Linked DNA regions of Homo sapiens. The protein of the gene in region 1 interacts with the protein of each later gene in a pairwise test. Each region holds a gene or a part of one and is shown on either strand. Other genes may lie near its edges.

The links.
Region 2: the proteins of EPAS1 (region 1) and BMAL1 interact in binary tests that used the Homo sapiens proteins (3 or more experiments, as listed by UniProt).
Region 3: the proteins of EPAS1 (region 1) and BMAL2 interact in binary tests that used the Homo sapiens proteins (3 or more experiments, as listed by UniProt).

The regions. Positions count from the first base shown.
Region 1 is NC_000002.12:46,384,360-46,387,307, reverse strand, and holds the end of EPAS1 (endothelial PAS domain-containing protein 1), read right to left. Parts: intron 2,800-2,948; coding exon 2,648-2,799; 3' UTR 611-2,647; downstream 1-610.
Region 2 is NC_000011.10:13,280,658-13,284,414, reverse strand, and holds part of BMAL1 (basic helix-loop-helix ARNT-like protein 1), read right to left. Parts: intron 1-3,757. UniProt on the Homo sapiens protein: Transcriptional activator which forms a core component of the circadian clock.
Region 3 is NC_000012.12:27,419,711-27,423,467, reverse strand, and holds part of BMAL2 (basic helix-loop-helix ARNT-like protein 2), read right to left. Parts: intron 3,073-3,757; coding exon 2,936-3,072; 3' UTR 1-2,935. UniProt on the Homo sapiens protein: Transcriptional activator which forms a core component of the circadian clock.

The DNA.
Region 1 (2,948 bases):
CCATCTCTCCATGGAGACAAAGGTCTGCTCACAAGCAGGTCATGATCTGGAAAAGTGAAATTTGAATTGGGGAACATATCATGCTCATGTCCAGTTCTGGGCTTTCACTGTGCTCTGTCTCTGGCCGAGGGGATCTCTGCTCTTCCCAATCACAGTCTACCTGGGAAGACCCTACTCCAGCCCAGCCGCCTCCAAATTGAAGTCCTAATGCCCAGGCTGCCCCTTTCCCTTCGGGACCTCCATCCCAAAGTGCACTATGTGAATATACAGAACAGTGTGGCTCTCAAACGACTTCATGTAATTTTCTGAAAGCAGAGACCATGACTTCTTTCCTTGGGTTCCCCATAGGATACAAAAAATGGCCCCGAGGCACATAGATAGATAGATAGAAAAATACTTGCAGAAATATGGAAGATACAATATGAATTTTCAGACTTAGGCAACTACCAAGTATTTAACACAGTCTTTCCTTCACCAGTCTTATCAGCTCACTTCAGTAGTCTCATAAAGGTCTGTGCTAATGTTCAATTTATATGAACGACTTAATACTTCACTTTACATTGGCATAGCCCATGATAAATCCACAGGAAATAAGAGCCACCAGCAGTGGTAGGATCAGAATACTTTAATAAGATACCAGTGTCAAAATACATTTCCTTATAAAGTTAAGCTCCCATACAGTTATAATGTTGTCAGTAGGAATTCGACAATATAATAACGTTCATGAAATCGTTACGTTGACAGGTAGGGTTAATATGAAGCTTGGAATATTTTTCAGTGTTTTAGTAAAACTGCAAGGGTAAAATGCCCTTAATGCCAGGGCAACACACACAGGAAATCAAATACCAGCATTTACACGTCAGTAACCCTTCAAGTTCTGCCACCCTGTGTGGGGTAATGCCGTGCAGCTAAAATATGATTTACGCAACACCATGACTAAGGAATTTCTCATAGAACTTAAATTTCTTTTGAAAGCTATTTTTTGTTTTTGGCAATAAGTCTATCCGGGCTTACTAAATAGTTGGCCCAATGTGCTTTGTGTGTGTTTTTAGAAACTTCTTCATTGTACCCATTACAGAAAAGTTCCATGTAATTGGTATTGAAAAACCAGAGGTGTCGTCCCTCTTACCCAGGGAGTTGCAAAGTGCTCTGGGAACACTATTTTCAGTGCTTCCTACCTACATGTCACTGACCGACCCAGAGACCTCAGCCAGGGCCTGTGGCTAGGGGCCATCCCTGGAGGCCTTGCGGGGCCATCTGGCTGCCGGCTGAGTGGGGGCTGCAGGGCTGGTCTGGACCAGCTGCTCTCCCGCTGTGCAGCCTCCTCCTCAGTCCAGCTCCACGGGGCTCCAAGGTCGTGAGCTTGGAGGACGTGGACGGGGTCACTATACCATTTTTGACCCCTCATTTGCATGAATTCCCGTCTAAACCATCTCATGGTAGTTCTGGAAATGTCCAAATGTGCCGTGTGAAAGACCATCCGAGTCACATAGCTCAGTGCACTTGAAGGGCTAGCAACAAAACCTTAAGAAAAGTTAGAGCACTTCCCCGCCCCACCCCCCGACCCCACAACGTGCCATCAGACCCTCTTGGCAGCAATAATAATAATACATACATACATAGTACATAGAGAATGTGAGGGGATAGCGCGCAGTGCTCCCGCTGAATGACTCCACTGCTCGGATTGTCACACCTATGGCATATCACAGATGGCAAAAAGCCGACAGAGGGAGGCCTTCCACAGTGTCCGTACAGGCCGTGGGAGCACTGGACAAGTCTGCAGTGTCCACAACACTAAGAAAAATTAACAGCTTCGAAAAGATCTTAAAGTGATTTTGTGAGCAGGATTCCATTTCCGTTTCTAAGTTTTTAGATATTACAAAGTACCCATATATATGATAAACACTTAACCCAGATATAAATTTTCTCCTCTTTTAAAAAACTCAGTTATGTTTTTGAATAATAATAAAAAATCCACCAAATGCGGGGGAAAAACACCAGTTTAGGAAAAGCCACGCTGTGCAACTTTCACAGATAACCACATACGTTGGAGTTGACCCTTCACATTTCTTTTTTTCCAAAATTAGAGCAAAGAGTCAGCTTAAACAAAAAAAAAAAAACCCTGAAATTTACAATATGGTGATTAGTTTAAAAAAGAAACGAGAAGGGCTCTGCGAGGGAGACGCCACAAACCAAGCTTGGAAAGCAAAATCATTTTTGTTTCTCTTTGGCAACAACAATAACGAGGAATCTTTTTAGTAAAATGAAGCTAAAGCTTCTCCCTACAGAAGAACAGACATGCACCAAACTTGTTAGTATGGACAGTTGTGTGTGAGAAGGAGAAGGAGGGAGAGAAACCTATGGATAATATAAATTAGAAGTCATTGAAGGTGGGGAGGAAAAAAATCCTACAAAATTTAAGAACATTTCAGAACAGGTAAAACAATTGTGTACTTTAAAAATAGGGATAATAAAGTGAGCATCTCAGAAAAAGGCCACTGCTTGGTGACCTGGGCAAGTCTGCCAGGTAAGTCCATCTTGTAAATAGTGTGCTGGCGTTAGAAATACCTAGTTGCAAAAACAGACGGAGAGAGTGAAGCTGGTGGGACGGCGTCGGCAGAGGTGCTGCCCAGGTAGAAGGCCTGGCTCAGGTGGCCTGGTCCAGGGCTCTGAGGAGGTCCCCTCCTTGCAGGAGCGTGGAGCTTCCCAGCACGGGCACGTTCACCTCACAGTCATATCTGGTCAGTTCGGGCAGCAGGTAGGACTCAAATGAGGGCCCGAGCAGCCGGCTTGCCATGCCTGAAAGAAGGGTTGGTACCATAACTTAAAGGCCTAAATCGAACATTTGGAAAAGTGTCTACTTCTTTGTGACTGGGGGATACCAATAGAGCAGCCCTAATTTCACTCTGCTCCTTCAGTGGTGTCTGTCCCACGGCCTGCTGCATGCC
Region 2 (3,757 bases), on another chromosome or scaffold:
AAAAAAAAAAAGTGGTATCTAATTTCACTGTGCAGTATATATTTGAACATTATATAACACATTTTTATGTAACAGGTTCTTGACATAAAACAATGTGTCCCTTACTATCTAAATGTATTTGGGGAACAACTGGCATTAAAAAAAAAAATATATATATATATATATATATATATATATATACACACACATATATATATATATACACATATATATATACACACATATATATATATACACATATATATATATACACACATATATATATATACACATATATATATATATACACACACACATATATATACACACACACACACACACACACACACACACACACCCCAACACTGTGGATATACCAAAGTTGTGGACGTTGGTCTTCAGGGAGAAAAGGACGAAGGTGAGGGACCTTTGAAAAGGTCCCCTCCCCAGTGAGGAGCTCTGCAGATGGCTAGATGAGGGTGGGAGGTGGGGTTAGTGAGTTATGTTAAAAGGTTCATCTCACACAAGGAGCTGCCTGGGGAGGAGCTGGCTGAGCCACAGGGGGCCTGGGTCAGAGCAATGCTGCAGAGAAAGCAGGGGGAGGCCAGAGAGACAGCCATGCATAACAGGATGTGAGGAGAATGTTCACAAGCCCCTGGAGCTGCTGCTCAGGTAGCATCCAGGTCCGCATCCCTTATGCGGAGGGTTTCAGGCAGCTCCGCTCTAAAAGAGGCTCATACCATGTTTGTCAACAATAAGACTGGTTCCCAATTGCTGTCAGCCTACTAGGCTCCTGGCATGGTGCGGCTGAGTGAGGTAAGGGATATAACGGGGTGTTTCCTCCCAGTAGGAATCTACTAGGGTGTTACAGGGCAGACTCTGGAGTTCACCAGCACAAATTCTGCCCCAAGCCATAACAGCTGAGTGACCTTGGGCAGTTTATAAAACCACCTCATTTGTGAAGTAAGGATAATAGTACCTGCCTCATGTAGTTGTTATGGGGTTTAAATGAGTTAATAAGCAAAGGTGACTCACATATGTGCTGGCACATAGAAAGTGTTCAATAAATGTTAGCTGCTATTATCGTAATAATTATTATTCCTATTTTGCACTCAGAGAAGCTAATTAACTTGCCCAGGTCAGACATTTCAAACAGTGATTGAAGGAATAAATACAAGCCAATGCTTCATTCAGTATATGCACAAAACCCAGTGGGTAGAGCAATAGCCAAATATTAAATTAGGCAGACCAGCCATCCCCTTCTTTAACCAGGCTAGATAAAGAATTAGTTTACACTATTTAAAAGGACAGCACATACTAAGGTAAAAACCACTCTCCATTACATGCCAGTACTCAACGTTCCCCTGCAGCAAAGATGACTAAACCTTATCCAATCTTATCTCCCCCTGAGGTTAAGTCCCCAATTCAAACCCTCCTTCCATGCAGACCTAAGTACTTACGGCCATGTCCACTTATGGCCCTGTTGCACCCCCACCTCTATGCAGTGTGCATCCTGTTCCCTCCACCTGCTCCGTCCCTGAGTGCCCACCCCATCCCATCTCCTCCTCCACAAGATCAATGTGCATTGGACAACCATGGCCTAAAGGCTCCCTGTGCCTGTCATTTTGGAAAAAGCAAGATAAACTTCTCCCAGAATGCTCAGGCTGAGCGAGCAGGTGAGATATTTTCAGAGACAGCCCAACACAATATGGAATGCAGCAGAACCTAAGAGAATTGGAGAAAAATCAATGTGGACATTGCTGCCAGGTGTGGGGAGGAAGGAAAACAAAATGAAGAAATAGTGCTGCAGGACCAAGGCCCTGGGTCCTAAAAGCAGAGGAGGATTTGGACACGTGAAAATTGAGGGATGGACTGGGCCAAGGGCTGGTACAGGGAATGGACAGCCCCTCAGCTTGACTACAGTGTCCAGGCACATGGCAAGGTCTGGCAGACAGGCAGGCTGAATGTGGAGACCACTACAAACCAGGCCAAGGCACCCCGGCAAGGCAACGAAGAGCAGCAAGACTGACAGCAACATTCACTGAGTGTTTGCAATGTGCCATGAATAGACTGGCACACTTTTTCCAATGCTTTAACTCATTTAATCCACACCTCAACTCTCTGATGTAGGGGCTACTATGATCCCAGTTTTATAGATGAGGACACCAAGGCATAGAGAGCAAAAGAAAATTGACCACAAGTCACGAAGCCAGTAGGGAATACTTAGGATGTGAAATCTGGCTCCAGAGTCTGTATGCTAAACTACCCAACCAAACTGCCTTTTAGGACAGCCTGGGGAATGAAGGGATGTAGGCTCCAGTGTGTCATGAGGACTCAATGTGACAGTGCTTGCAAGCAGTCTGCAAACCTGTAACTCCGAGACCACAAATGCAGATTACAGGCTGCCATTCATGTCCACAACGGACCTGCTAGCAGAACACAGGAGAGACAGGTCAGGGCTAGAGAGGGGACCCCAGGCCACGGACAGTGTGAATAGCAGAAGCTAGGACAGACATTTATCTTTACAGGGGTGCAGGAAGAGAATCAAGAAACCAGCATGACCCAAAGGCTGAGAGAGGAAAGGATTTCAAAGGACAAAAAACAAGTGAGGTAAAAGCTTCAAAGGGGCTGAGCACAGTGACTCACGCCTGTAATCCCAGCACTTTGGGAGGCCAGTGCAGGTGGGTCACTTGAGCCCAGGAGTTTGAGACCAGCCTGGGCAACATGGCAAAACTCCATCTCTAATAAAAATACAAAAATGAGCCAGGTGTGATGGCACGTGTCTGTAGGCTCAGCTACTCTGGAGGCTGAGGCAGGAGGATTACCTGAGACTTGGGAGGCTGCAGTGAGCCACGATTGCACCACTGCACTCCAACCAGGCAAGACTGAGACCATGTTTAAAAAAATAAAAGAAATACTGCAAAGGGGCCAAGAACAACCACTCAGGAATAAGGATGGGCAGATGGGCCCCAGGAACTCACGACAAAGTTTTGGAGAAAACTTTGAGAAGAAATATAAAGAAAGGTGGTAGCGAGAGAAGCCAGAGGGCAGGTACTAAGAATGGAGCAGGAGATGGGAGAGTGGGGGAGGCTGGCAGGAGGGAGGAAAGAGAGGCTTACGAACCCAGGGTACCAAGTAAAGACACATGTAAATTGCCTGGTACACAGCAGGCTCACCACAAGTCTGACTCTGCCTCTTCCATCCTTCCTCTCCTAAGTCAAGCCTAAGGTTTTCAGGGTGGGGCAGGGGAGACTAAGGACAAACAGCACAAATAATATTCTAGTGATAGGACCCGGGTAGAGGTGAGAAGGAATGGCAGCTGGCACAAAGGAAAGGCTTCCTGTGTGCCAGGCCTTTTACATGCACCATCTCCCTTAATCCTCACACAGACTCCACGAGGCAGGCACTGCCATTACACCAAGAGGAGAAACCTGAGGTCAGAGGAGTCAAGCACACATCCAAGACCACAAAGCCCAAACCTGAGCCATGGATTCTTCTGCCACCAGAGCCCAGGCACTTGCCCATGGTGAGAGGCCAAGAAAAGGAACAGAGGAGAGGTCCACTTGCTTTCTCTGAATTGGGAGGAGATGAGGGGACGATGGGGATAGAGACAGGACATTTTGGGTGGGAAGTAAGAGATGCTGAGGGGGTTGAGTCAGAGCAGGTCTTATTTCATGAGAGGGAGAAGAAAAGACAAGGTGGGTATTTGGGATAAATCTGAGTCTTGTGATAAGGTGACAATGAAAAAAGACTGTGGAGAAGGATAACATGCCTGTGT
Region 3 (3,757 bases), on another chromosome or scaffold:
GTGGTCCCAGCTGCTCTGGAGGCTGAGGCAGAATGGCGTGAACCCAGGAGGCAGAGATGGCAGTGAGCCAAGATCGCGCCACTGCACTCCAGCCTGGGCGATAGAGCGAGACTCCATCTCAAAAAAAAAAAAAAAAAAAAAAAGAAAAGAAAAGAAAAGTCTAGAGTACTGTTTTTATGATACTTTCGTGCAATTTGTAGATATATTCTTTCTCACGAAAATTCAAAAAATTGACTCGCAGTAGAAAAAAGGAACATAGTGTATACCATAAAAATATGTCACTTCTAACAGCAAAAATCAAATTTAGTTGAAGAAAACTAAAACATTTTGAAGGAAACACAAACCTTAGGAGAGCTACGGTATCATACAATGCATGGATTAGATTTTGAGTCCAGGACAAAAGGATCTACAGAAAAATATTAGAGCGAACTAATAAAGGATCAAACCATGCACAGAGTATTCAACTGGCTATCTGCCCACTGGTCTATGGAATTGAACAGCCCCTCCTCTTGCAAAGAGAAAAAACTGCCACTGTGAGAGGCAGCACTGGTCTCCCTCTAGAAACTCTGCCTCTCAAATCCTGGCATCACGAGGGCAAGTCTGCCCCCATCTGCTTTTGAGGCCATCCAGCTATGATGGCCTACCCTGCCACCCCTGGCTTAGGCAGACTCTTTGGAAGCCAAGTCTAACCTGCAATGGTTCAGTCCCCTAAAAAGTGATATTGGTAGGCAGGCCCCTCTGCTCAATTTAGAGAACACAGGGGATCTTTCATACTTCTTTAGACTTAACTATAACACTTAGGCTGCTGCACACCAATTCTCCCCATCTTGTAGGATTTCTTTGGCTCATTCTAAACCTGATGTCTCTCAGGTCCTCAAGTGTCGGACCAGGAATGGTGCCAACCCTCCAACATTGCTGGGACACTATCAGTTCAAGAGGACAGTGTGCCAATACATCCTTGCCCACGAAGCCCCTGCACATTTCACACTTGAAGGAAACATTTGCTTTTGGTTATTGTCTGTTGGTATGTTTGTCATTAACATGTCTGACAGAAGTTCTAATCTATCACCTACAGCTAAAGAAATAGCATGCAGGGTCAAAATAATGCTTTGTTTTGGCGAGGGGCTCTGAGGGAAATTTTCTGGAAAGATGTAGCACCATATAGAACAGGAAACTGGATTTGAAGCCCACATTGAAGTCTGAGGGCTGCCCCATGAGTTCCCAGCCTATCTGACTTTCATTTGCGAGGCACGAGAGAGAAAATATGGGAGCATACTTGGCAAGCTATGAAGAGCTACTGAAGCAGAAAGTGTTATAAAGTATGATCCCCGAGAAGGTAGACATGCAGTATTTTAAATAATCTTAATTCTTATACTCAATTTGAGCCACCTCTGGATTAATTACTGTTAAAAATGCTCTCCAAATTTTAAATTATAACTAGAAAATTGGTTTTTAAATTATTTCTCATTGCCTCATAATTTTAAACATGTACTTGTCATTTTGTTTTATTACCTTTGGTTACAGGCAATAACTGTAATTGCCTAATTACTTAGAAAGCTACAACTAGTTCCTGGGTCAGTTAGTTAATCATTTAATCTGTGAGACCAATGTTTTCCCAAATGTGTATAAAGAAACTGGTTTATATACATTAAACATTTAAAACTCTATGAATTTAATGTGTGACTGAATTTAATGTGTGACTTTACACAAGACATTTAATCTGCCCGGGCCTACTTTTTTCCTTTAGGACAAATCTATCCCTAAGTATGTTTCCAATGTCAAAAACCTAATCTATCTATAATAGAGATCTTCAGTGATTATATTAAATCTTTTTTTTTACTTTTTTTGAGATGAAGTCTCACTCTGTTGCCCAGACTGGAGTGCAGTGGTGCGATCTCGGCTCACTGCAACCTCTGCCTCCCAGGTTCAAGCAATCCTCTCGCCTCAGCCTCCCAAGCAGTTGGGATTACAGGTGTGTGCCATTAGGTCATGAGGCCTTTGCGCTCATGAATGGACTGTCATTATCGTGGGAGTTGGTTAGTTACCTCAAGAGTGAGTGCCTGGGTAATTTTTTTTGTATTTTTAGTAGAAACGGGGTTTCACCATATTGGCCAGGCTGGTCTTGAACTCCTGACCTCAAGTGATCTGCCCGTCTCAGCCTCCCAAAGTACTGGGATTACAGGCGTGAGCCACCACGTCTGGCCTATTAAGAGTAAATCTTATATGCAGAGGTTAATCCCCAAGATCTAGGGCCCAAGATCCTTCCTTTTCTGTAAGGAAAGCTGAAACTCTTTTGACTTTCTGAGTTTTAAGCAAGAAATCATCTCACTTAAAATTCATCTTAAAGTGCTCAACTGAGCATAAATATCCCAGCTCTGTGCTTGCCTAAGTCTCCAAAGATCAAATACAGTATTCAATGTGATTATGACTATAAATTGCACTGTCCCTTTAAATGTTCAAGTACTCACTGTTTTCTTAAAGTGTGTAAGCCCTATCCTCAATTAAGGAAATTCGCAAGGAATGGAAAATGTTCCAAATTATACAAACCTACTATTATAAATGAATCTTAGACACAAAGGAAAACATCAATATATTACATTACCTCAACTAAAAAAAACTGCATCAAAAATAAAACAAAGCCAAAACAATATGTAAGTAGTATTCTTGGTTAGAAATATTTTAGCAAAAATATGGCAACTAGTGGATTATAAGCCATTTCACTGAATAAAGGAGTCTATAATAAACTTGGTTCTCTTGGGAGGAAAACGTATTTCCCCACATCCCTGTGACAGGAAGATGCAAATCTATAAAAAGTGGTAGAACATTAATAAAAGATACAAACAATATCAATACAGTACTTAAGAATAGTTGAGACAGTTTTTCGTAAATGAAATGCTTTAAAATGTTTCTCATTTTTGGAGTTAAAAATCAAAGGCTAGAGGGTCCACTGGATGTCACTGAAGTCCCCAGGGTCTCCCAGGCCCCCCTCTGCTTCTAAGTAATTCATAAATGCAGCCATGGCTGTGTCATCATTGTCACATAGGGCATCGAAATCCAACTGTGCACCATCACCTATGAATTAAAATACAGGCCTGTGTAAGTAAAGGTGATCAGTAAAGTCATACATTTCACACATTTTGAGGTTAAAAAATGATTGTGATAAAAAATGGCAAAGCAAGGCTAGAAAACCATAAAATGTATTTTTGAAGGCAAAGTATATATCTTAAGCTGCAGATGGCTGATGTATTTTTAAATGGGTTACCTAGTTTTATAACAATCTTCTGTCAGATAAATTGCACCTAATTCATCTGCTACAGAGAAGTAAGCTAGTCTATGAGTTTTCTAATAGGAAATTACACTGCTAAAGGGTACAGACTCTCAGAGAGCTGGAAGGAAGCTAGGAAATTTAGTGTATGTTTGTGTGTGTGTGTGTGTGTGTGTGTGTGTGCACGCGCAAACCCTGGAAGGAGAAAATTTAATCTGCTTATGAAAAAACCCTATCTGTTTAATACTGAAATGAGAAGCCTGAGACAGAAGCATCTTCTAAAGATTTGGAATTTTCTTATAAAAGGGAGATAAATCAGATTTTTATTGAAAAAGGAAGTAAGTAGGAACCATGGAGATGATAATTAATTTAGAGATAAAAGGTTCTAGAAATTAAGGGTTAAAATGCAGATAAAGACTAACCAAAGGTTTGTATATATGTGTCAAAGTACAGTGGAACTTCAGATAATAAATATATGGCTCTATGTGTGTT